Homo sapiens: one gene and its partners. The protein of the gene in region 1 purifies or fractionates together with the protein of each later gene. This does not show direct contact. Each region holds a gene or a part of one and is shown on either strand. Other genes may lie near its edges.

Region 1 (3,500 bases):
TACAAGTTAGAGAAGACAGAGTAAATTTACTGTTCATAATATCAAAAGAGCACTACTGGCAAAAAAATACCATAGCTATACCTTTATAGAAATATGGTGTTTCTACTATGTTAACTGTTTTATTAAAGTTAAGACTATGTTTTCAGGAGACAATGGGAAGATATACCTTAGTGGTTAAGAGCATGGGTTTCAGAGGCTAGACTCAGTATAAAACATAGCCAAGACACAATCTCTCCTTAAACTTCAATTTCTTCATGTATAAAATGGGTATAACATTCATGACAGACAGATTCTAAGTGTTAGGTTAAAAGAAGTTTTTCTTTTTTCTTTTTTTTTATTTTGAGACAGAGTCTCACTCTTGTCACACAGGCTTGGAGTGCAATGGCGCAATCACAGCTCACTTCAACCTCCGCCTCCCGGGTTCAAGTGATTCTCCTGCCTCAGCCTCCCGAGTAGCTGGGATTACAGGTGCCTGCCACCCAGCGCACCCAATTTTTGACTTTTTAGTAGAGGCGGGGTTTTACCATATTGGCCGGGCTGGTCTCAAACTCGTGACCACAAGTGTTCTGCCCCATTGGCCTCCCAAAGTGCGGGAATTACAAGGCGTGGGCCACTGTCTTGTTAACATTTTATAGAACTTTATCTTCGGCTGGTGTGATGGCTCACGCCTTGTAATCCCCGCACTTTGGGAGGCCAACTTGGGCAGATCACTTGAGGTCAGGAGTTCAAGACCAGCCTGGCCAACATGGTGAAACCCCATCTCCACTAAAAATACAAAAAATTAGCCTGGTGTAAACCAAACACCACATGTTCTCACTCATAAGTGGTAGCTGAACAATGAGAACACATGGACACAGGGAGGGGAACATCACACAGCTGGGCCTGTCGGCGGGTGGGGAGCTAGGGGAGGGAGAGCATTAGGAGAAATACCTAATGTAGATGACAGGTTGATGGGTGTAGCAAACCACCATGGCACATGTACTCCTATGTAACAAACCTGCACGTTATGCATATGTATCCTAGAATTTAAAGTATAATTTAAAACAAAAAAAGAAAAAAAAAATTAGCAGGGTGTGGTGGCATATGCCTATAGTTCCGGCTTCTCAGGATACTAAGGCAGGAAGATCAGTCTAGGCTGGGCGTTCAAAGCTGCAGTGAGCCATGATTGCGCCACTGCACTCCAGCCTGTAGGACAAAGCAAAACTCCGACTCAAAAGAAAAAACAAAAACAAAAAACAAAAAACAAAACAAAACAAAACAAACAAAACTAACACAATACCTGCCGAGAACACAGCCTGTCAGTCAATAAACACTGATCGTTACTACGATATGAAAGGAACTATTTTGATCCTATCCAAAGGATGGGTGACTGACAAAGGAGTTGGGAAAAGATATTGGCTACGTCCAAAAAATCTCAACATAATTATTCCAACCAAGACAAGAAGAAGATGGCACAGCATTCTCAGGGGCAGAAAGACAGCACACAATTGGCAGTAACCAGCAATTCCATCCTCCTCGACCACTGAAATAAAAACATGTGGTGTGAGGAGTCTGAAGTTGGATGGAAAGGTTCATTAAAGCAGACATAAATCTGCATCCACTGCAGTGAATAAAAAAAAACACACCAAAAATAAAAATAACTTTAAAAAAGCAGATATAAATCACTTAACTGAACCTAAACCATCATGGAACTTGACTCTGTAAAATTTCTGCTCTTTTAAGAAGTGTCTAATATTTTAATATATAAAATAAATGCTGGCATGGAAGAGAATAGAAGACTAACCTTAGAACAAACAAAATCAACTAATGTAGCTTCTTCTTCACCTATATATTCTATGATTTTCTTATTAATCCATGGTCTAATTCGACGTTCCATCAGTATCTGCAAAACAAACCACGGTTACTGAATTAAAGAATTGTAACTTGCTATAACAGTTATTAAAGCTTCATGATTTTTCCTGAGACTAAAATATAATGTTATTTCACAAGTTGAACTAAGACAGATATGTATCAAGATACAATCATCTGCTTTTAGTAAGTCTTCAAGTAGCACAAAAAAAATTTCCATTATTACTAATTTCTTGACCATGGCATTGAGTTGGTGTCAAGATGATCATCCCTACTTATTTGTCATTAATAGAATCAAATGAGGTTTTTTTTTCTTCAAATGAATTTGTATGGCATATTCCAACTGTTCCCAATAATATGATGAAATATAATTTCCTACTCACAGAATCCACAATAGACCAATCCAGGGGATAAGCGAAGAGCTCAGGTTTGGCTGTAGGGATTTTCTCAATGAGACTCTTAATGTGTTTACGCTTTTCTTCAGTGTTTACAGTGCCTTTGGTTGCATTTTTATCATCTTCACCATAATCCAAGGGAACCAGTTTCCTTTTTCGGGGTACGTCATCACTGTCTTCATCCTCAAATTTGTTAAAGACACTATCTACAGGTAGTTTCTTTCTCTTCACAGAATTAGGCTGACCAGGACTATTGGAAGCACCTACAGTAAAAACACTCTCTTAGCAAGATGACTTAATTTCCAAATGTTTCATTTTATAACCCACCATCCCTCAAAAGCAATGCAAAATATACTTCCACAAATCTTAGAGAAAGATCCCAACTGTAAAAAATAACTCACTACTCACAAGTGCTAGAAAATTAAACTTTTCACTTCTTCTCAGAACTCGAGGCAGCTGCAGATATAGGAGCACTAGTAAAACTATGAAAACAATCGTGAGCTAGAAAGGCATTTTTTAGTAATCTTCTATCTACCTAACCAAGCACAAATATAAATTTTTTTCTTTAAAGCACAATACAGGTATTTGCAGGGGTGAAGGGAAGAAAATAAAGAAGGAAGGAAATGCTAACGTACCCAGTTTAAGACTTAGTCCTATTTTTGGCCTATGCTCCTCAGGTTGCTGTTGATCTGGTGAGTTTTCATGAGGAATAATAATACCACAGGGAGACTCATCCCCAGGAGTGTTAGGTGTTGCATTGCCACTGGCAGAGGAAACAGATGGAGCAGAGCTGATGGGCCTCAGAGTAGGTTTCAGACAAGGCTTTTGCTCTGGCTCCTCTTCCTCTTCCATGGGTTCTTCTCGTTTTTCTTCTTTTTCTTGCTTTTCTTCTTCCTCCTCTTCTGATTCTGGCTCTTGCTTTATTTGTGGCTGCCTGCGCCTCTCAGCCTCTTGTTCCATCTAAAACCCAAACAATAATCTGATTAACTACAACTCTACACCATTCAACTTGATTTTTGTTTTACATTACCTCTTGTAAAATATCTTTATGAAAAGAGAAAAGGCCAGGTATGGTGGCTCATGCCTGTAATCCCAGCACTTTGGGAGGCCGCGGTGGGCAGATCATCTGAGGTCAGGAGTTTGAGACCAGCTTGGCCAACATGGTGAAACGCTGTCTTTACTGAAAATACAAAAATTAGCCAGGTGTGGTGGTGCACGCCTGTAATCCCAGCTACTCAGGAGGCTGAGGCAGGAGAA
Region 2 (3,500 bases), on another chromosome or scaffold:
TAAAATCATGGGACAAGGAGTCTCTCTGTTGTTCTGTAATAGTTTTTAGTTTCTTGACAAAAGCAGTATTTTTCTTCAAACTTGAGTCGAGGCGGCTGAAGAAGTTTTCCTCTGGTCGGCTGTCCGGAGCATTTTGGTTTTTGCTACGAAGTTCCTTTCTTAAATGATGTCGTTCCCAAGCTTCCTGATGAAGCTGAATGGATTCTTCTTTTTCTCTATATAAAAACAAACAAATAAATAAAATACTCTCTACATTTTGAAGCATTATACACAAATCCCCTAAGAGTAAAAAGCCAATGAAAAAAATTATCTAAGTATAACAATCTACAAGATTCAAAAGGCCTTTCACTACTTTTAAAGACATTTTACTGGCCAGGCATGGTGGCTCATGCCTGTAATCCCAGCACTTTGGGAGGCCAAAGCAGACAGATCACCTGAGGTCAGGAGTTCAAGGCCAGCGTGGCCAATATGGTGAAACCCCACCTCTACTAAAAATACAAAAATTAGCTGGGCGTGATGGCGCTCACCTGTAGTCCCAGCTATTCAGGAGGCTGAGGCACAACACTTAAACCCAAGAGGCAGAGGTTGCAATGAGCCAAGAACGTGACACTGCACTCTAGTCTGGGCGACAGAGCAAGACTCCGTCTCAAAAAAAAAAAAACAAAAAAAAAACACATAAAGACATTTTACTAACGACTAACGATAACAAGTATTATCTTAATGAGAAGCCCAGTACTGGAGGTCGATAACAAATGTCATAGAGCAGAGGATACTGACACTAGATTAAAATTAAAAATCATTCTGCCAACTGGCAAGCTAACTAGGTAAGACATATAATGCTACTGTGAAAAATATAGTATGTTTGGGAAGGATGTAAAATGTGAAACAAATAAAAGCAATGGGCAAAGAGAAAAAAAAACAATTATACACAAAGAATTATTTAAAGAATTAGCACTACAAGACCAGATGTGGTGGCTCCCAGCACTTTGGGAGGCGGGTGGATCACCTAAGGTCAGGGGTTCGAGACCAGCTTGGCCAACATGGTGAAACCCCGTCTCTACTAAAAATACAAAAATCAGCCAGTCGTGGTGGTGGGCACCTGTAATCTCAGCTACTTGGGAGGCTGAGGCAGGAGAATTGCTTAAACCTGGGAGTCGGAGACTGATGCTGCAGTAAGCCAAGATCTCCCAACTGCACTCCAACCTGGGCAACAGAGCGAGACTCTGCCTCAAAAAATAATAATAATAATAATAATAATTAGCACTATAAAAGAATGCATTAAAAATGTTTTGAGGCCTGGGCAGTGGCTCACGCCTGTAATCCCAGCACTTTGGGAGGCCGAGGCAGGCAGATCACGAGGTCAGGAGATCGACACCATCCTGACTAACATGGTGAAACGCCATCTCTACTAAAAATAACAAAAAATTAGCAGGGCATGGTTGCACGCGCCTGTAGTCCCAGCTACTCAGGAGGCTGAGGCAGCAGAATTGCTTGAACCCGGGAGGCGCAGGTTGCCGTGAGCCAAGATCATGCCACTGCACTCCAACCTGTGTGACAGAGCAAGACTCTGTCTCAAAAAAAAAGGCCAGGCACGGTGGCTCATGCCTGTAATCCCAGCACTTTGGGAGGCCGAGGCGGGTGGATCACGAGGTTAGGAGATCGAGACCATCTTGGCTAACACAGTGAAACCCCGTCTCTACTAAAAATACAAAAAATTAGCCGGGCGCAGTGGCAGGCACCTGTAATCCCAGCTACTCAGGAGGCTGAGGCAGGAGAATGGCATGAACCCGGGAGGCGGAGCTTGCAGTGAGCCGATATAGTGCCACTGCAGTCCGGCCTGGGCGAAAGAGCAAGACTCCATCTCAAAAAAAAAAAAAAAAACAAAACAGTTTTGCAATGTTAGATATTGTTTTTCCATCCTCAGCACATTAGCCAAACCTTTAACAAAGTACCTTGCTATGTTTGGGCTCTTAAAAATTCAAGTGATTTAGAAAATTTGGAAAGGAACCAGAAGACAACTATCAAATAAGAAACTTAATAAAAACCTAGTAGACTCAGTTTATACTGAAAAGAATAACCAAAAACAAATATACCTATTTTTCCACTAAAAAGACAGAACAAGTTTAAATTGCAGAAGTAATAAAATAGGCACGAGTGAGGGGCAACAATCTGATTTTGAAGTTTATTGAAGTTTTTGAGATAACAAAACACATAACTTAAATCTCCACTTTGTGAAGCTGAGGTGGGAAGAGCCCAGGAGTTAAGACCAGACTGGGCAACATAGTAAGACCCAATCTCTACAAAAAAATTTTAAAAATTAGCTGGACATGGTGGCACATGCCTGTAGTCCCAGTTACTTGGGAGGCTGAGACGGGGGGATCGCTTGAGCCCAGGAGGTTGAAGCTGCAGTGAGTCATGATCACACCATAGCTCTCCAGCCTGGGTGACAGAGTGAGCCCTGTCTCAAAAAGTTATACGCATATCTATAAATCTCTAAAAAAGTACATTTTCATCTTTCTGAGATAATCACCCCTGAGTTATAAGATAATTATTTGATTTTTCCATTAAAAGCTACAATATATTAACAGAAAGGTGGCCTCTATCACTGAGAACATGGACAGTTGAGTATCTCTTTGAAGTCTCCCAGCAACACACAAATACAAAATGAGCAGTGAAAGTACATTTTAAGAAAGTATGTACAAGGCTGGGTGCCGTGGCTCACGCCTGTAATCCCAGCACTTTGGGAGGCCAAAACGGGTGGATCACCTGAGGTCAGGAGTTCGAGATCAGCCTGACCAACATGGAGAAACACTGTCTCTACTAAAAATACAAAAATTAGCCGGGCATGGTGGCACATGCCTGTAATCCCAGCTACTCGGGAGGCTGAGGCAGGAGAATGGCTTGAACCTGGGAGGTGGAGGTTACGGTGAGCCGAGATCGCGCCATTGCATTCCAGCCTGGGCAACAAGAGTGAAACAACTCTGTCTCAAAAAAAAAAAAAAGAAAGAAAAGAAAAGAAAGTATGTACATACATTAAATAACTCAATTTTCAGCTGCATTGAAAACACTTATATATCGAAGTTTTTATGGGTAAATGCTATGATGCTCTACAATACTCCAGGGGGAAAAAGTGGGTAATTATTGATGCTAGGTAGATGGGGGACTAGTTCACTATACTATTCTATTTTTGCATATATCTGAAATTTTCCCAGGAGCTCAGGAGTTCAAGACCAGCCTGGGCAACACAGCAAAACCCCGTCTCTACAAAAAATACAAAAATTAGCCAAGTATGGTGGTATGCATCTGTAGTCCCAGCTACTCAAGAGGCAGAGGCGGGAGGATCACTTGAGCCCAGAAGGCAGAGATCGCAGTGAGCCAAGACCAGGCCACTGCACTCCAGCCTGGGTGACAGAGCAAGACCCTGTCTCAAAAAAAAAAAAAAAAGACTCTCTTAAGAATCATGGTTCTGAATATTCCAAAACTAGGCACTACTATAGCTT
Region 3 (3,500 bases), on another chromosome or scaffold:
TGACAAACCTGAGAAAAACAAGCAATGAGGAAAGGATTCCCTATTTAATAAATGGTGCTGGGAAAACTGGCTAGCCATATGTAGAAAGCTGAAACTGGATCCCTTCCTTACACCTTATACAAAAATCAATTCAAGATGGATTAAAGACTTAAATGTTAGACCTAAAACCATAAAAACCCTAGAAGAAAACCTAGGCATTACCATTCAGGACACAGGCATGGGCAAGGACTTCATGTCTAAAACACCAAAAGCAATGGCAACAAAAGCCAAAATTGACAAATGGGATCTAATTAAACTAAAGAGCTTCTGCACAGCAAAACAAACTACCATCAGAGTGAACAGGCAACCTACAAAACGGGAGAAAATTTTCACAACCTACTTATCTGACAAAGGGCTAATATCCAGAATCTACAATGAACTCAAACAAATTTACAAGAAAAAAGCAAACAACCCCATCAAAAAGTGGGCAAAGGACATGAACAGACACTTCTCAAAAGAAGACATTTATGCAGCCAAAAAACACATGAAAAAATGCTCACCATCACTGGCCATCAGAGAAATGCAAATCAAAACCACAATGAGATACCATCTCACACCAGTTAGAATGGCAATCATTAAAAAGTCAGGAAACAACAGGTGCTGGAGAGGATGTGGAGAAATAGGAACACTTTTACACTGTTGGTGGGACTGTAAACTAGTTCAACCATTGTGGAAGTCAGTGTGGCGATTCCTCAGGGATCTAGAACTACAAATACCATTTGACCCAGCCATCCCATTACGGGGTATATACCCAAAGGACTATAAATCATGCGGCTATAAAGACACATGCACACGTATGTTTATTGCGGCATTATTCACAATAGCAAAGACTTGGAACCAACCCAAATGTCCAACAATGATAGACTGGATTAAGAAAATGTGGCACATATACACCATGGAATACTATGCAGCCATAAAAAATGATGAGTTCATGTCCTTTGTAGGGACATGGATGAAACTGGAAATCATCATTCTCAGTAAACTATCGCAAGAACAAAAAACCCAACACCGCATATTCTCACTGATAGGTGGGAATTGAACAAGGAGAACACATGGACACAGGAAGGGGAACATCACACTCTGGGGACTGTTGTTGGGTGGGGGGAGGGGGGAGGGATAGCATTGGGAGATATACCTAATGCTAGATGATGAGTTAGTGGGTGCAGCGCACCAGCATGGCACATGTATACATATGTAACTAACCTGCACATTGTGTACATGTACCCTAAAACTTAAAGTATAATAATAATAAAAATAAATAAATAAATAAATAAATAAAACCCACTTACTATTTCTGCAATACTTTGTTTTACTTAAAGGCCAGTAGTATCAAAATAAAAATCAACTTTTATAGTTTTATCACTTACACATCATAGTTGCTATAGGAGTGGCTATAAAATGAATATCCATTGCTAAAATTGGATCTTTCGTTATTGCATAAAAGGAGACATTTCTATTAGTCACAACTACGATATGGTAAAGGCACAGTATGTCTCAGTTACACACAGGCTGAGCCATTCAAAGTATCTGTGAAATTCAATGGAGCATGTAGAACCGTTCCAGCAACCACTTAAAACCTGGCAACTCAAAGTACAGTTTCTGAACCAGTAGCAACACCTGGGAGCTTGACAGAAATGAGAACACATGGACACATGGAGGGGAACATCACACACCGGGGCCTGTCAGGGGGTGGAGGGTAAGGGGAGGGAGAGCATTAGGACACATACCTAATGCATGTGGGGCTTGAAACCTAGATGACAGGTTGATAGGTGCAGCAAACCACCATGGCACATGTATACCTATGTAACAAACCTGCATGTTCACCACATGTATCCCAGAACTTAAAGTAAAATCAAACAAACAAACAAGAGTCAAAAAAAGAAAAAAAGAAGCACGATCTTAGGCCCTGCTGAAGACCTACTGCATATGAAGCTGTAGTTTAACAGGCTCCCGCTATGATTCGTAAGTACATTAAAGATTGAGAAGCAAGACTTAAGACACTAAACTGATCTCAGGAAACAAAAGATTTTTAGAAAGTTTAACTCAAAAAAACAAAACAGTATAAATGAGAGTAAAACTATTACATTACATACTAAACAACTGTAATTGAAGAACTGCTGTACCGTACCTTAAGACCTGAACTCCAAAGATCAAGCACATTTTCCATCTTCTGAAGGTTTTCATCAGAAACAAGAAAATCGCTCACAAGTATTTCATGGGCATCTGTATGACTAGAATTTGTTGCTGGTGAGGAAGAGTCAGCTAAAAGATGTGAACTGAAAAAATCCATGACTGGGTGAGAAGGCTTCCTTGGCGATAACACTGGTGATGACTCTGAATAAAAGAAAAGTTGTAGCTGTCAAGCCAAATTGAAAATAACTCAAGTTGGTAAGGAACCATACTGGAAGGCTAAAAGACGTCTGCTACTTATGGAGGCTGAGAAAAAATGCAGAGAAACTACCTTTCAGGTGTACCTTAATCTATTTTTAATTTCAGTATTGTCAGTGATTTAGCACAGACTGGCATGAGATACCTCCTATACTCCCAATCCCTTCTCTCCCAGCAAATGACCTCTATCCCAGATAAGGATCCTTCATATATCCAGGTCCAGCCTGAGGTGAAACTATCATCATCTGTATCATATCACCATTAATGAAGTGCTTTCTGTTTCTGTAATAAAAACATTATAAAGATTAGTTCTCATAACACATGCTACCCTAAAAAATAGGTATTATTATCTCCATTTTACTGATGAGAAACTGAGGTTCAGAAAAAGTTAAGTAATTGACCAAGGTCAGTGTGGTTGTATATAGGTCAATATTACTCTGTAAGTTTAACACTGGGATTGGTTTTAATACTATTAAAATTCGGCCGGGCGCGGTGGCTCATGCCTGTAATCCTAGCACTTTGGGAGGCCGAGGCGGGTGAATCATGAGGTCCAGAGATTGAGACCATCCTGGCCAACAAGGTGAAACCCCATCTCTACTAAAAATACAAAAATTAGCTGGGTGTGGTGGCACGCACCTATAGTCCCAGCTACTCGGGAAGCTGAGGCAGGAGAATTGCTTGAACCAGGGAGGCAGAGGTTGCAGTGAGCCGAGATCGTGCCACTGCACTCCAGCCTGTGACAGAATGAGACTCTGTCTCCAAAAACAAAAACAAACAAAAAACCTATTAAAATTAAACAATTTAAGTAGAAAGAGACTCATAATTTAGTTTTGCAGATACTCTGTTGTTAAGTACACTGTTAGGCTTCAATGTAGAGGTGAGAAATGTACACATCTCTATATGTATGTGCATATATATAAAACGCTCATCCCCTGCCCATATCCAGGGAGGTGGGGGAGAGTCAGGGCCCTAAAGAGAACAGGTATCTATTTCTAAAAAAGCACTGAAAGGCTGGGCACGGTGGCTCATGCCTGTAATCCCCGCACTTTGGGAGGCTGAAGTGGGCGAATCAT
Region 4 (3,500 bases), on another chromosome or scaffold:
GAAATCTTTTTAAGGATTAGACAAGCATTTTATTTTTATTACAAGAATTAGACAAAACATTCAAACAATGCTAAAGATAATGCTGCCAAAATGACAGAGACAGCAAGTAGTTCAGTGTTTTAAGGATGCTACGGCAGTTTCATATTGCTATTCTTTTAAAAAGGGAATAAAGGAGGCACCTAAGTTGGGAAACTTGTCTAGTACCCTGAAGAAACAGTTTCTCCAAGGCAACTAAAGACAGGCGGCTCCCTTAACTTTCTCCCTCCAATATCACGGCAATAACTGCTAATTCTGAAGTGATCTGAAGACGACTCACTAAAAAATTTACTCTTAGACCAGTCCTTGTATTATAAGAACCTTTGGAAACAATCTTTCAGTTTTTCAGTTTATCTGAAGTACAGTGGAAGAAAATGCACACTAAGAGAATAATCTTGGGTTGTTCTGATAGAGAAGGGGGAAGGATTCTACTTCCTAAAGCATATAAATAATTTCAAATATTAAAACACTCTAAGAAACCCACCAGGAGGGCTTAACCCTTGTAAAAACGTTAGAAAAAGAATATCAAGAGACAGTAAACTTTTAGGGGGCAACTTAACAACAAGAAATTAGTGAGGCAAATAAGCACAGGAAGCTTGTTCCATGTAGTCAAATCCATCAAAAAGGATTGTGCATAAAAAGGGTCAGCATGTAAAGAATGAGGAGAGAAGCTAACACTGGAGAGGACAGGGTGGATAATAAAGTAAGGTGAGGTCAGCTAGGGCTAATGAGTGGGAAAACATTTTGTGTGTAAGTAATCACTATAAAATATTTCATAGCTGTTACGTCTCAAACTATCCCAACTCTATAGACAAATCACTCTTCTATTCATGTACCAGGTATGGTGAGTTGCTCCTGTGGTTCAAGGTAGAGAAAGGATTTATATACATCACTTGATCCCATCCAATGCTCAAATCCTTAGAAAGCACTACTTCACACCAAGATTCTTCTTTTTTTCTGAGATAGAGTCTCACTTTGTCACCCAGGTTGAAGTGCAGTGGCGCAATCTTGGCTCACTGCAACCTCCGCCTCCTGGGTTCAAGTGATTCTCCTGCCTCAGCCTCCCGAGCAGCTGGAATTACAGGTGTGCACCACCACACCCAGCTAATTTTTGTATTTTTAGTAGAGATGGGGTTTCACCATGTTGGCCAGGCTGGTCTCTAACTCCGGACCTCAGGTGATCCTCCCACCTCAGCCTCTCAAAGTGCTGGGATTACAGGCGTAAGCCACTGCACCCAGCCTTCTTTTTTTTTAAATCAAGGATTTTCAAATGACACGTAAACAGAATAAGGAAACACATCATCTTGGATAATCGAATGGAACCAAACTGAGATTCCCTTCCATGCAGTATCTGTAATTCAGGTATATGTGTCTAAAATTTGTAATGTAAAAATGATCACTGAAAATTGAGTAGTGGACTAACATGCAGATTTGGACAGCTCAGAGACCAAATGCATCACCAGGAAACCCTTCGTACTATATGCTTAGGCAACCAATCCACTGTTTTAAGATCCCTTAAGAATAGGATAGACTAGATCCTGGAGAATCTTGGTATGGCTACCACTTTTAGAAACAAAAGGATTGAATGAATACAAAATTATCACAAGATTTAAATGGTCTCTCTGGGCCACAGAGCCTCAGTTCAAAGAAGCTGGTGGGAACTGCACAGGGCAGGTCTGTTGAGGGTTCTACTGAAGAAACAAGGTATCAAATTGTTTGGATTTTAATCCCCCAGCATCACAATTCATTTTACTTGTTCAGCTAGTAAGACAGAAACACAGTTAAGGGCCGGAGATTTTTCTCAGCGGATTTATGCAGTAATAGATTAAAGTAAAATCAAATTCTACAAATTAAGTGAAAAGTACATTTTACATGCACTGATGTTCAAAGTTTCATTCCAGGGAGATTAAACATGAAACATATATTTAATACTGAATAACTATCTCAAAGAATTTTGTGTTTAATGGCACAGAAAGAACTGTGACTGTCTCATGAAACTTCCTGCTTCCCTGTAAACAAAAGAGAACATGTGTGATTTTCAATTTAAATAAGATCTTCTCCACTTGTCTGCTCAGTGTTCCTAACCTCCACCCTCTTCTTCCTCATATCCCACTGAGGGAAGTAACTAGCCTAGGATTTATTTTTCTCAGAGCAACCAACTTGATACCATTGTTTCTTTTAATTGTAACCAAGGCTTAATCAAAAATTTTGGCTTTATAATGACCATTTCCACAGTTCCCACTTCACACCCTCCTTGTCCTTCACTGTACATTGTCGTTGTCCACCACCCCTACCCACCAGGAGTGGAATCTGTTTTGAGTACAGGGACCCACTTTTTTTTCCTTTTACCTCACTAGTCCTGGCACAGTGCTTAGCAAACACAAGTAGCTCAATAAATAAATACTTATTGATGGACATAAGGAAGAGAACTGGACACTGTGCAAAGCCTGTCTCAGTATGAAAAGCCAAAACTCCCAGCAGAGCAACTGATCTCAGTCACCTTTCCAGAGTTCTCCCTGGCCCAAGAGAGCCAATGTGAATCCCAGGACTCCCTGTGTTACAGGAATAAAGTAGCTCTGGCAAAAACAGGCTTTTGCAGCAAATGCTCTAAGAGATCAGGGAATAAGCACCATAGGGTTCCATCTAGGAAAAATATTAATTTTCCTTGAGGAGCAAAGTGCACATGAAGGGCTTCCTGTGCATGGGCCAGCTTGGGGCGAAATCAGTAACATTCTTAAAACATTCTAAAACACAATTTGTACTGGGTGCCTTCAGACTAAGCCAGCTTCTAACAATTCTAGCCAAAGTTTTTTTGTTTTTTTGTTTTTTAAATAATTTCTGTAGCTTCCAGATGACACTAACACTAACTTTGTCAAAAATAACTAATTGATATGTGTGTGGGGGGGAAGCACTCATCCCTCACCTTCCACAAAACATAAGATATTCAAAATTCACACTTTCTTCAGCTTGCCTAGTGTCAAATATTGCCCGTTGGATATATGTATCTATTAAAGTCCACATACTACCTTTAGCCTGTCTTAGACCCATAAAAAAGTCCTTTTTAACTGAGGAGACCAGAGAACAAACTATTGAGGCCAATAACTTATACTCTAACAAAGCAGTGACCACTGGACAATGAGTTCTGCGTATTTCTCAAAGTGAAATGAATGGCACTATTATCAATCCACAGATAAGAAATTAGAAGGGGAAAAGCTTTTCATTAATAACAAAGGTGGCTGGGTACGGCGGCTCACGCCTGTAATCCCAGCACTTTGGGAGGCCGAGGTGGGCAGATCACAAGGTCAAGAGATTGAGACCATCCTGGCCAACATGGTGAAACCCCGTCTCTACTAAAAATACAAAAATTAGCTGGGCATGGCGGTGCGCGCGCCTGTAGTCCCATCTACTCAGGAGGCTGAGGCAGGAGAATCATTTGAACCTGGGAAAAGGAGGTTGCAGCGAGC
Region 5 (3,500 bases), on another chromosome or scaffold:
AGCACGCCTTCTGGCCAAATGTGGAAAGGTGGGGGTTCTGAATGTACTGAAGAGAGGTCTGAAAACTGAAGAAAGCAGTTGGATTTGTCATTCTGAGGAACTTAAATATTATTTCATAGGTAACAGGGAGCCAACAAAGGTTTTTAAGCAGGGATAGGAACATGACCAGATATGTTTTCAGAAACATCACTCTAGCAGCAATAAGAAAGCTGGATGGGAAGCCAGACCAAGAAAGTAATCCAAAGAAGATGTGACGAGGGCCTAAATATGACCTATAATAAAAATAAATTAATTATGCTAGAAAAACATTTTAAAATCCCTCCATCTTTTCCATGGTCTGATGTGTTTTATTTAGGAATTGGTCGACAGCAAAAAGGAAATACTTACTTTTGGGTTTTTGTTTTTTTTTTAATTCACCAGCTCGTATGATTTAGTACTCAGTTAACAATAAAATAACTATTGCATGCTGCATTTAAAACACTTACCCTCTCTGTTACTTTATCAACTTCTATGTACATGAAGTTGAGATTTTGATCAAAATGCTGATCTTTGAACACACCTTTTCGAATCATCTACAAAACAAAACAAAAACTTGGGTTTTGAACTATTATGAAACAGGCCTACTAACAATTTAATTAATATACAATAAGTCAAATAAGTATGTTATTTAGTCTCTGTAGGTTTGTTTGATCTCAGATTCCCTTGATCCCAGGAATTCATTAACATCTTTGCAAAAGCAAATACCAATGCTGTACCTAAAACTACTTAATAACATGAAATTATATTTGTCCAGGCAGTGACTTAAAACAATTATAACATCAAATTGTCCTTTCACTATTTAAAATTGGAGAGTCAACAAAGACTTTAAATTATTTCTTCCTAAAAATATCACAAAACTCAGGTTTTTTCTCCTTGGCAGTTAGGGAACCTAATGCCACTTTACTAATTATGTTCCAACAGCCCTGATACAGGTCAGACTTCATTAAAACTAATACCAACATAGCTCATTTTTATGTAACTTATTCTAAAAAAAGTCCAACCTAATAGAATTTGGACAATATGTACAAATCAGCCTGGTCAACATAGTGAAACTCCATCTCTACAAAAAAATTATTAAATAAATTAACTGGTTGTGGTGGCACATGCCTGTAGTCCCAGCTACATTGGAGACTGAGGCAGGAGAACTGCTTGAGCCCAGGGGTTCGGTTCAAGGCTGCAGTGAGCTATAACTGTACTCCAGTCTGGGACACAGAGCAAGATCCAGTCTCAAAACAACAACAACAACAAAACACAACTGAAAACCATACAGTTTTCTGACCTTTACGAAAAATGTGTAAATCTTTAGAAATTCAGCAAATAGGCTGAAATCTTAAAAAGCTAAGTTACAGCCGGGTGCGGTGGCTCATGCCTATAGCTACTCGGGAGGCTGAGGCAGGAGAATGGCATGAACCCGGGAGGCAGAGCTTGCAGTAAGCTGAGATCGCGCCACTGCACTGCAGCCTGGGCGACAAAGCAAGACTCCGTCTCAAAAAAAAAAAAAAAAAAAAAGCTAAGTTATGGCCCTCAGATACTTTAATAAATGCTTACATTCTTGCTTCATGTTAAACAGAAACTAGCATTATAGCTGAAGTATCAGCGGTGAGTTAGAAAGATATTAAATAAGAAAAGGTACCAAGAAAGGTACCTTACTTTCTCAAATAACCTCCAATCTTTAATAAATTAATTAACATCAAGTTCCTCTTACAATATCTAATATTCACCTATTCATTCTCTGACCACTAAGCATGTTCTTGTATTTTACCTAATTCAACTTACATCTTTTTCCATTCTGTCTTCCAAACATTTTGAAACTTTTACCCATAAGGGTGTATCCCCAAAATATTGCTGCTCTCTGTCCATCATTGAACAAGTTCTCTTATCCTTAGCGCTTGGCTGATTAGAACCACTAATTTAAAACACCAGAAAAGGGAAAGACCCTAAGAAATCATGATAGCCATCTACCCACCTTTCTGAAATTTTTGTTTTATAGCTCACTAGTGGTGAGCAAGTGTCAGCAGTCTTGTCAGTTAATAAGAAACTAAGACCTTAAAGAAGCTCATGCTAATGTCTTACCTTATTTGGCATCTTTCCTTTGAGATCCATTGCAAGCTTCAGCATATGGTTATTGGTTTTGCCAGGGAATAAAATTTTTCCAGTATAGAGTTCGTATAAGGTGCAACCTACAGACCACATATCTATACCATAGTCATAGCTTTTACCTATAACTGAAAACAAAATCAAAGTTTTAATATACGAGGATAGAGAAAACTGACGACTATTAATTTTTATTTCCATTAATGAGGGGCTGGCTACCTTAGCTTGGACTATAACCACAATCTTCATGCCTTAGTTTGACAATTAGTTTTGTGTTCTTTCCCACTAATTCTTAATAGAGACTCAAACTTAAAAACCTTAAAAAATGGAGGTGTAGGGGAGGAACTTAAAGGGCAAAAGAAAATATGTATTTCTTCTCTTTTCTCATTTCGCCTTTGGTGGAGGTGCTAATCAGCCTCAACCAAGGCAACAGGAAAAAACAAAGGTCCCATACAATCCATAAATGTGATAATCAGACCTTGAATAATCAAGAGCAGTCTTCTAAAGTCGAGGATTTTCCACAACTGTTTTGCTACTCTTGCCCGACATGATCAAGACTCCTGTCACAACTACCTTCATTCCACCTGAGGAGGATGAACTTGCTATGGTTCCCTTCCTCATGAATGAACTCGTGCAGCTGCTGAAGTGTGATGGAAAACAGTGCTTAGACATTAAGTATGCGGTTTCCACCACATATGATGGCCCAGGTCAAAGAACATTAAGAAACTTACTGATTTCAGGAGCACGATAAAATCTACTGACAAGATAAGGTGTTATGTCATTATCCGCAACATGTGAAGCCGACCCAAAATCGCAAAGCTTTAAAATAGTTTTGGATTCATTAACCTGCAAAACATTTTTTCAAGGGAATTTAATTCAAGCCAGGAATAATTAATACAAATAAATAAAAATTATTGGCTTTGAAAAGTTTTATTAATTCCAATACTGAGAACAAAGACATTCATTTAAAAATTCCTTTTCTATTTATTTTTAATTCAATTTCCTAACTATGAAAAGTTAATATGTATCAAATATTCATTACAATGAGTAAAAACTGTTTTCAGTGAGGAAATGGATATCACAAAGTACATTTAATTTTAACAACTGCATTTTTAAAAGGGTGGGGTACTGAGAGAAAAATCTAATTTCATGAAGCAAAGCATCTTCTAAAAAGACCCTGAATACCTGAATAAAGTCAAGTTTTATAACTAAGGAATCAGACTTAACTTTCAGTTGCCAGAGAATTACAATGGCAATGAAAGCAGAAGGGTGATTCAGAATAAACTTGGACAAAAACAAAATATTCTTCATCCGAAGCTGCTATATGATCCCAAATTTAGCAATCACTTCAAGTCTAAAAAATATTA
Region 6 (3,500 bases), on another chromosome or scaffold:
GGTGATTCTCACAAGATTTCAAACTTTTTCATTACTATTGTATCTGTTATTACCATCTATAATCTTTGATCTTACTACCGCAATTGTTTTGGGGCACCACAAACTGTGCCCATATAAGATGGTGAACTTAATCCATAAATGTTGTATGTGTTCTGACTACTCCACCAACCAGCCATTCCCATCTTTCTCCCTCTCAGTGCTCCCTATTCCCCGAGACACAATACTGAAATGAGGCCAATTAACCCTACAAGAGACTCTTAAGTGTTCAAGTAAAAGGAAGAATGGCACATCTCTTACTTTAAATCAAAAGCTAAAAATGATTAAGCATAGTGAGAAAGGCACGTTGAAAGCCAAGATAAGCGGAAAGCTAGGCCTCTAGTACCAAACAATAGCTGAGTTGTAAATGCAAAGGAAAAGTTCTTAAAGAAAATTAGAAGTGCTATTCCAGTGAACACATGAATGATAAAATGAAACAGGCTTACTGCTGATATGAAGAAGGTTTTAGTAATCTACATAGGTCAAACCAGCCACAACGATCCCTTAAGCCAAAGCCTAATTCCAAACAAGCCCTAACTTTATTCAATTCTATAAAGGCTGAGAGAGGGAAGGTAGCTGCAAAAGAAAGTCTGAAGCTAGCAGAGGTTAATTCATGAAGTTTAAGGAAAGAGGCCAGGCGCAGTGAATTACTCCATCTCAAAAAAAAAAAAAAAAGAAAAGAAAAATTTAAGGAAAGAAGCTGTCTCCATAATTTAAAAGTGCAAGGTGAAGCAGCAAGTGCTGACACAGAAGCTACAGCAAGTGGCCAGGTGCAGTGGCTCACGCCTATGTAATCCCAGCACTTTAGGAGGCCGAGGCAGGCAGATCACAAGCTCAGGAGTTCAAGACCAGCCTGACCAACATGGTGAAACCCTGTCTCCACTAAAAATACAAAAGTTAGCCAGGCATGGTGGCGTGTGCCTGTAATCCCAGCTACTCAGGAGGCTGAGGCAGGAGAATTGCTTGAACCCAGGAGGCGAAGGTTGCAGTGAGCTGAGATCATGCCACTGCACTCCAGCCTGGGCAACAGAGTGAGAATCTGTCTCAAAAAAAAAAAAAAAAGAAGCTGCAGCATGCATCAAGTTATCTGGAAGATCTAGCTAAGATCACTGATGAAGATGACTTCATGAAATAACAAATTTTCCATGAAGACGAAACAGCCTTATATTGGAAGATGCCACTTAGGACTTTCACAGCTAGAGAGGAAAAGTCAATGCCTAGCTTCAAAGCTTCAAAGACAAGCTGACTCTTCTGTTACATGCTAATCCAGCTGGTGACTTTAAGTTGAAACCAATGCTCACTGACTATACCAAAAATCCCAAGGCCGTTAAGAATGATGCTAAATCGGCCGGGCGCGGTGGCTCACGCCTGTAATCCCAGCACTTTGGGAGGCCGAGGCGGGTGGATCACGAGGTCAGGAGATCAAGACCATCCTGGCTAACACGGTGAAACCCCGTCTCTACTAAAAATACAAAAAATTAGCCGGGCGTGGTGGCAGGCGCCTGTAGTCCCAGCTACTTGGGAGGCTGAGGCAGGAGAATGGCGTGAATCTGGAGGTGGAGCTTGCAGTGAGCAGAGATTGCGCCACTGCACTCCAGCCTGGGCGACAGAGCAAGACTCCATCTCAAAAAAAAAAAAAGAATGATGCTAAATCTATTCTGCCTGTGCTCTAGAAATGGAACAACAAAGCTTGGATGACAGCACATCTGTTTACAGCAGGGTTTATCAAATATTTTAAGATCACTGTTGAGACCTGCCGCTCAGAACAAAGATCCTTTTAAATATGACTGCTCTTTTAATAAGAAATCCTTTTAAAATATTACTGCTCATTGACAATACTCCAGGTCACCCAGGAGCTCTGATGGATATGATGTACAAGGAAATTAATATTGTTTTCAGCTGTGCACAGTGACTGACACCTGTAAACCCAGCACTTTGGGAGGCTGAGGCAGGTGGATCACTTGAGGCCAGTTCAAGACCAGCCTGGCCAACACAGTCAACATGGTGAAACCCCATTTCTACTATAAATACAAAAAATCAGCCGGGCGTAGTGGTGCACACCTGTAATCCCAGCTACTCAGAAGGCTGAGGCAAGAGAACTGTTTGAACCCAGGAGGCAGAGGTTGCAGTGAGGTGAGACTGCACCACTGTACTCAACCTGGGTGACAGAGTGAGAATCTGTCTCAAAAAAAAAAAAATACTGTTTTCATGCCTGCTAACATAACAGTCATTCTGCAGCCATGGATCGAAGAGTAATTTCAACTTTCAAGTATTACTATTTAAGAAATACAGCCTGACATGTGGCATGCACCTGTAGTCCCAGCTACTCAGGAGGCTGAGGTAGAAGGATCACTTGAGCAACGTAGTGAGGCCCCATCTCTAAAAATAAAAATTAAAAAAAAATACATTTTGTGAGGCTATAGCTGCCATAGATGGTGATTCCTCTGATGGATATGGGCAAGTACATTGAAAACCTTCTGAAAAAGATTCACCATTCTAGATGTCATTAAGAACATTCGTGATTTGTGGGAGGAGGTCAAAATATCAACATTAACAGAAGTTAAGAAGAAGTAGATTCCAACCCTCATGGATGACTTTGAGTGGCTCAAGACTTCAGTGAAGGAAGTAACTGCAAATGTGGTGGAAACTGCAAGAGAACGAGAATTAGAAGTAGAGCCTGAAGATGGGACTGAATGCTGCAATCTCATGATCAAACCTGACCAGATATGGAGCTCCTTCTTAAGGATGAGCAAACAAAGTGGTTTTCTTCCTTTTTTTTTTTTGTTTGAGACAGTCTTGCTGCATCGCCCAGGCTGGAGTGCAGTGGTGCAAAGTCGGCTCACCGCAACCTCCACCTCCCAGGTTCAAGCAATTCTCCTGTCTCAGCCTCCCAAGTAGCTGGGACTACTGGCGCCTGCCACCACGCCGAGCTAATTTTTGTATTTTTAGTAGAGACGGGGTTTCACCATACTGGTCAGGCTGGTCACAAACTCCTGACCTCAGGTGATCCGCCCCCCTCAGCCTCCCAAAGTGGTGGGACTACAGGCATGAGCCACTGCACCCAGCCAAGTGATTTACTGAGATGGAATCTACTGCTGGTGAAGATGCTATGATAACTGTTGAAATGACAACAAAAGGTTTAGGATAGTACATAAACTTGGCTGATACAGTAGTAGCAGGGTCTGAGAGGATTGACTTCAATCTTAAAAGAATTCTACTAAATGCTATCCAACAGCATCGTATGATACACAGAAATCTTTCATGAAAGGAAGAGTCCATCAACATGGCAGACTTCTGTTGTCTTATTTATTTATTTATTTGCAAGACAAGGTCTGTCACCCAAGCTGGAGTGCAGTGGTACAATCACAGCTCACTGCACCCTTGACCTCCTGGGCTCTAGTGATCCTCCCACCTCAGCTTCCCAAGAAGCAGGAACTACAGCCCTGTACCACCATGCTCAGCTA
Region 7 (3,500 bases), on another chromosome or scaffold:
TTTTTTTTTTTTTTTTTGTAGAGATGGAGGTCTCATTACGTTGCCCAGGCTGGTCTCAAACTCCTGGCATTCTCTGGCCTTGGCCTCCCAAACGCTGGGATTACAGGTGTGAGCCACCATGCCCAGCCCCACCCCCCTCCACTCCAGGCCCTTTCTTTGCTCCTGGGCATAGCCTCCTTCCTCACCAGCCTATCCCAGGCCTGCCCGCACCCCTGCTGACCCCGATCATCTGCTCCAGGCCTCCCCAGCCCCTCCCCACCTCACTCTCAAGATCTGTCCAGCCCAGACCCCAGCCATGCCCCAGACTCCAGACCCCCAAACCCAACGTGGACTGGACCTCTCTGCTGTGGGGGCTGGACACCCCACCCACACATGCAGGGTGTGGAACCCCCCGCACTCCACCCGGCTGTCTGCCTCTGAGCCTTCTGCCTTGTGGAGCCGCTGCACAGCCTGGAGGCCTGGGCCCAAGGTGCCTCTGCTCTGCCCCAGACCCCCTTCCCCTCCAAGGGAGGGAGCGTGGCCTCAGTGTTCTTCCCCCAGCCCTGGGGGCCACTCACTCTTTGACAAAGCTCTGGAGCTGCTGCCGCACGGACCTCTGGGCCTGGTCAAACAGGATCTGGGGGCAGAGGCGGGCAGAGATCCTTGGGGTCTGTCCCGAAAGAGCCCCAGATGGAAGGCCCCATCCTCACCAGCAGAGGGCACTGCCCCCAGGCCCAGATGCAGGGGCGGGTCCCACCCTGCAGGGCTGGCCTCAAGGGGGTCAGGGGAGCAGCCCCCAGGCCTGAGTTGGCACTCAGAGGCGATGGCTGTCACCCCTGCCCCTCTGTCCCACCTGGCCCTTGATGAGTGCAGAGGCCAAGGCTGCCTCATCACAGCCTGAGCCGGAGCCCCACTGCCTCCTGGCCCTGGGCGGCCACCCTGGGGTGCCCATCCCTGCAGCAGGGAGCACTCAGCCAGAGCCGGGAGCACCCAGGGGCTGGGCCTGGGGAGCTGGAGCCTGGGCTCTGAATCGGAACCCGAAGTAGAGAAGGACCGGGCACAACCAGGAGCAAAGGGACGGCTGAGCCATCCTGCCTTGTCTACTTCGGGACCTCCTCTGTTCAGTCTGCGGCTCAGGTTCCCAGGCTGCAGCCCCACATCTCACGGGTGCCTGTCCTGTGTGTCCATCCACGTCAGTGCCAGGGCCCCCGGGGGCCACCCAGACCCAAATGGCAGCCAGGCCAGCCTGGGACGAGAGCCCTGCCCAGTTGGGGGAACCCTGGATAAACCACCCCTCCCCCAGGGTCTAGTGTGGCCCTTGCCTGGGACACGGCAGAGCCCCCAGGGCTGTCCCCCAACCCCACACTGACTTGAAAATGTGGGATTCCCCCCCCCCCCGACTAGAGGAGCAGAAACGTGCCCCCCCCAACCCGACGCCGGCCTTCAGGTGAGCCAGCGCAGCTCGGTTCCAGGCCAGGCACAGCCCACAGGTGGCAGGGAGGCCGCGCTCACCATGTGGTAGTTCACCACCTCCTGTAGGCTGTCAGCGAACCTCTGCAGACATTCCTGGAGGAGCAGATGGGAACCCGTGCTGAGATGGCAAATCCGGGCCCAGGTCACCCAGCCACGCCCTCTGAGCCCCTGGGCGGTGCAGACACCGGCCTGCTTCTGGCCTGGACGCCCTCAAGGGGCTGCCTCCCTCGGCCTCTCCCCCAACCCCACCTTGAGGTCAGAGGTCAGTCGGCCCCTCACCGAGATGACGGTGTCGCCCTGGCACTGCTGGGACAGGTCGCGGACGCCGCTCACGAAAAGCCTGCTGGTGCTGACGTAGGCCTTACCGGCTTCCACCATGCCACTGCACAGCTTCACCAGCTGTGGGCCAGCGGGGCGTGGTGAGCACAGTGGGCACTGGCGCCTGCACTCGCCACCACACACGGCCACTCAGAGGCAGGAAGAGCTCCCAGGGTAGGTTCCACTCAGGGCGTTGGCACTCAGGACTCAGTGCCCCGGTGCAGCTTCCTCACGCCTGGGCCTGCCTGGGGCTTGGAGGCCCGTCTGGGAGGGGAGGGTGGGGCCGCCACGGCTCGGCTGGGAGGGACCAGGAGCCAGGCAGGGGACCCAGGGCCAGCAGGACCAGCAGAACCAGCCCATGTGGGGCTCATGGATAAGGCTGCCCACTCCCAGCTCCACGGCCTGTTGCCCCCTCCTCTTTCTCAGCCCATGTGGGGCTCATGGACACGGCTCCCCTCTCCACGGCCTGTTGCCCCCTCTTTCTCAGCCCATGTGGGGCTCATGGACACGGCTCCCCCCTCCACGGCCTGTTGCCCCCTCCCCTTTCTCAGCCCCAGCCCCAGCCACACCAAGGCTCAGCCCACACAGCAGCTGTCCCCGTGTCACCAGCCCAGCAGAGGGGACGGGCAGCCACCGTGGGTCGGGGACTCACCACAGCCCAGCCCCTCCCAGATGGGACGAGACTCAGGGCCAGCCACATGTGTGCATGTGACATGTGCACCCTGGAACACACATGCTAAGACACAGGGACCAGGACCTGGAGCACCACACGCATGCTCCACATATGGGGGGTGTAAGTGGCTTAGTAAGGCCTGGAGGGCGAGTCTGGCCATGTGGCCATCCCAAGCTTGGCCGGGCACAGGGCGCTCCAGGCCCGCCCTTCACCTTGTCCAGTTTGGCCTCAATCTCCACCACGTCCGTCTCCACCTCGTCAATGGTCGCCCTAAAGCAAGAACGGGGCTGGCTGGGGTCACCTGCAGCCTCAGCCCCCTCGGGGCTTCACCTCCCCCCGCACCTCCCTGAGGGGCTCCACCATGGGAAGGGGCTTTCAGGAAACAGGCTGGGAGACAGACGCCTGCCTGCTACGGGGGCAGGACTGGGACCAGGTTCAGTGCACTTCCCCCCGCCCCCCCAACCCCAGGCAGGCAGAGGCAGCCGCTGCTGTGCCCTCGGGGAAGAAGGCTGGACCAGCCTCTCCCAGGACAGCCGGCCGCTGGGAGTCCCTCAGGGACAGTGCCCACCAAGGGCTGAGCCAGCCTCACCCGCCTCTCCTCTAGGAGTTCAGAGTCAACCCTGGACCCATCTGGAGCCCCTCAACCCTGCGGCACCTCCCCTCACCCCACTGCACTACTGCAGCCCATCCAGGTCTGGCACCCATGCACTGTGGGACAGGGTGGGGGCAGTAGGGCAGCTGCTCTCGGTCCTGGCAGCACCAGGAGGACCCAGACCAGCTGGGGAGAGACGCCCCCGGCTCCCCCAACCTCACAGCTGCAAGCGGCATGGTCCGCTGGAAAGACGGGTAGGCCATCCTCCTCAGAGCCCACTCCCACCAGGACAGCCTGACAGTGGGGCTGCCTGGGGAGAGAAGAGTTAAGGCATGACATCACCAGAGAAGCCTCGGCGGGAGAATCCCCGGAAGACAGGAGGCAGATGGATCGGGCACGTGACCACCCCCTCCGGGAGCAGGCAACAGGGAAACAGGGCCAGGATCCCGGCAGCCCTCCACACAA

What was found.
Region 2: the proteins of RBM25 (region 1) and UPF2 fractionate together in Homo sapiens (co-fractionation; one large-scale study listed by BioGRID). This does not show direct contact.
Region 3: the proteins of RBM25 (region 1) and POC5 purify together in Homo sapiens (co-immunoprecipitation; one large-scale study listed by IntAct). This does not show direct contact.
Region 4: the proteins of RBM25 (region 1) and CPSF7 purify together in Homo sapiens (affinity purification with mass spectrometry, with the first as the bait; one large-scale study listed by BioGRID). This does not show direct contact.
Region 5: the proteins of RBM25 (region 1) and PRP4K purify together in Homo sapiens (affinity purification with mass spectrometry; 2 studies listed by BioGRID and IntAct, with this or other methods). This does not show direct contact.
Region 6: the proteins of RBM25 (region 1) and PPIL4 purify together in Homo sapiens (affinity purification with mass spectrometry, with the first as the bait; one large-scale study listed by BioGRID). This does not show direct contact.
Region 7: the proteins of RBM25 (region 1) and ACAP3 purify together in Homo sapiens (affinity purification with mass spectrometry; one large-scale study listed by BioGRID and IntAct). This does not show direct contact.

What each region holds. Positions count from the first base shown.
Region 1 is NC_000014.9:73,110,534-73,114,033, reverse strand, and holds part of RBM25 (RNA-binding protein 25), read right to left. Parts: intron 3,204-3,500; coding exon 2,879-3,203; intron 2,726-2,878; coding exon of another isoform or gene 2,610-2,725; exon of another isoform or gene 2,507-2,609; coding exon 2,232-2,506; intron 1,883-2,231; coding exon 1,784-1,882; intron 1-1,783. UniProt on the Homo sapiens protein: RNA-binding protein that acts as a regulator of alternative pre-mRNA splicing. Involved in apoptotic cell death through the regulation of the apoptotic factor BCL2L1 isoform expression.
Region 2 is NC_000010.11:12,029,310-12,032,809, forward strand, and holds part of UPF2 (regulator of nonsense transcripts 2), read right to left. Parts: intron 216-3,500; coding exon 1-215. UniProt on the Homo sapiens protein: Involved in nonsense-mediated decay (NMD) of mRNAs containing premature stop codons by associating with the nuclear exon junction complex (EJC).
Region 3 is NC_000005.10:75,700,438-75,703,937, forward strand, and holds part of POC5 (centrosomal protein POC5), read right to left. Parts: intron 2,374-3,500; coding exon 2,168-2,373; intron 1-2,167. UniProt on the Homo sapiens protein: Essential for the assembly of the distal half of centrioles, required for centriole elongation. Acts as a negative regulator of centriole elongation.
Region 4 is NC_000011.10:61,423,476-61,426,975, forward strand, and holds part of CPSF7 (cleavage and polyadenylation specificity factor subunit 7), read right to left. Parts: intron 1-3,500.
Region 5 is NC_000006.12:4,055,800-4,059,299, reverse strand, and holds part of PRP4K (serine/threonine-protein kinase PRP4 homolog), read right to left. Parts: exon of another isoform or gene 3,048-3,500; intron 2,980-3,047; coding exon 2,865-2,979; intron 2,774-2,864; exon of another isoform or gene 2,612-2,773; intron 2,265-2,611; coding exon 2,113-2,264; intron 573-2,112; coding exon 486-572; intron 1-485. UniProt on the Homo sapiens protein: Serine/threonine kinase involved in spliceosomal assembly as well as mitosis and signaling regulation. Connects chromatin mediated regulation of transcription and pre-mRNA splicing.
Region 6 is NC_000006.12:149,536,044-149,539,543, forward strand, and holds part of PPIL4 (peptidyl-prolyl cis-trans isomerase-like 4), read right to left. Parts: intron 1-3,500. UniProt on the Homo sapiens protein: PPIases accelerate the folding of proteins. It catalyzes the cis-trans isomerization of proline imidic peptide bonds in oligopeptides.
Region 7 is NC_000001.11:1,301,431-1,304,930, forward strand, and holds part of ACAP3 (arf-GAP with coiled-coil, ANK repeat and PH domain-containing protein 3), read right to left. Parts: intron 3,383-3,500; exon of another isoform or gene 3,299-3,382; coding exon of another isoform or gene 3,252-3,298; intron 2,714-3,251; coding exon 2,656-2,713; intron 1,852-2,655; coding exon 1,732-1,851; coding exon of another isoform or gene 1,702-1,731; intron 1,546-1,701; coding exon 1,492-1,545; intron 617-1,491; coding exon 558-616; intron 1-557. UniProt on the Homo sapiens protein: GTPase-activating protein for the ADP ribosylation factor family.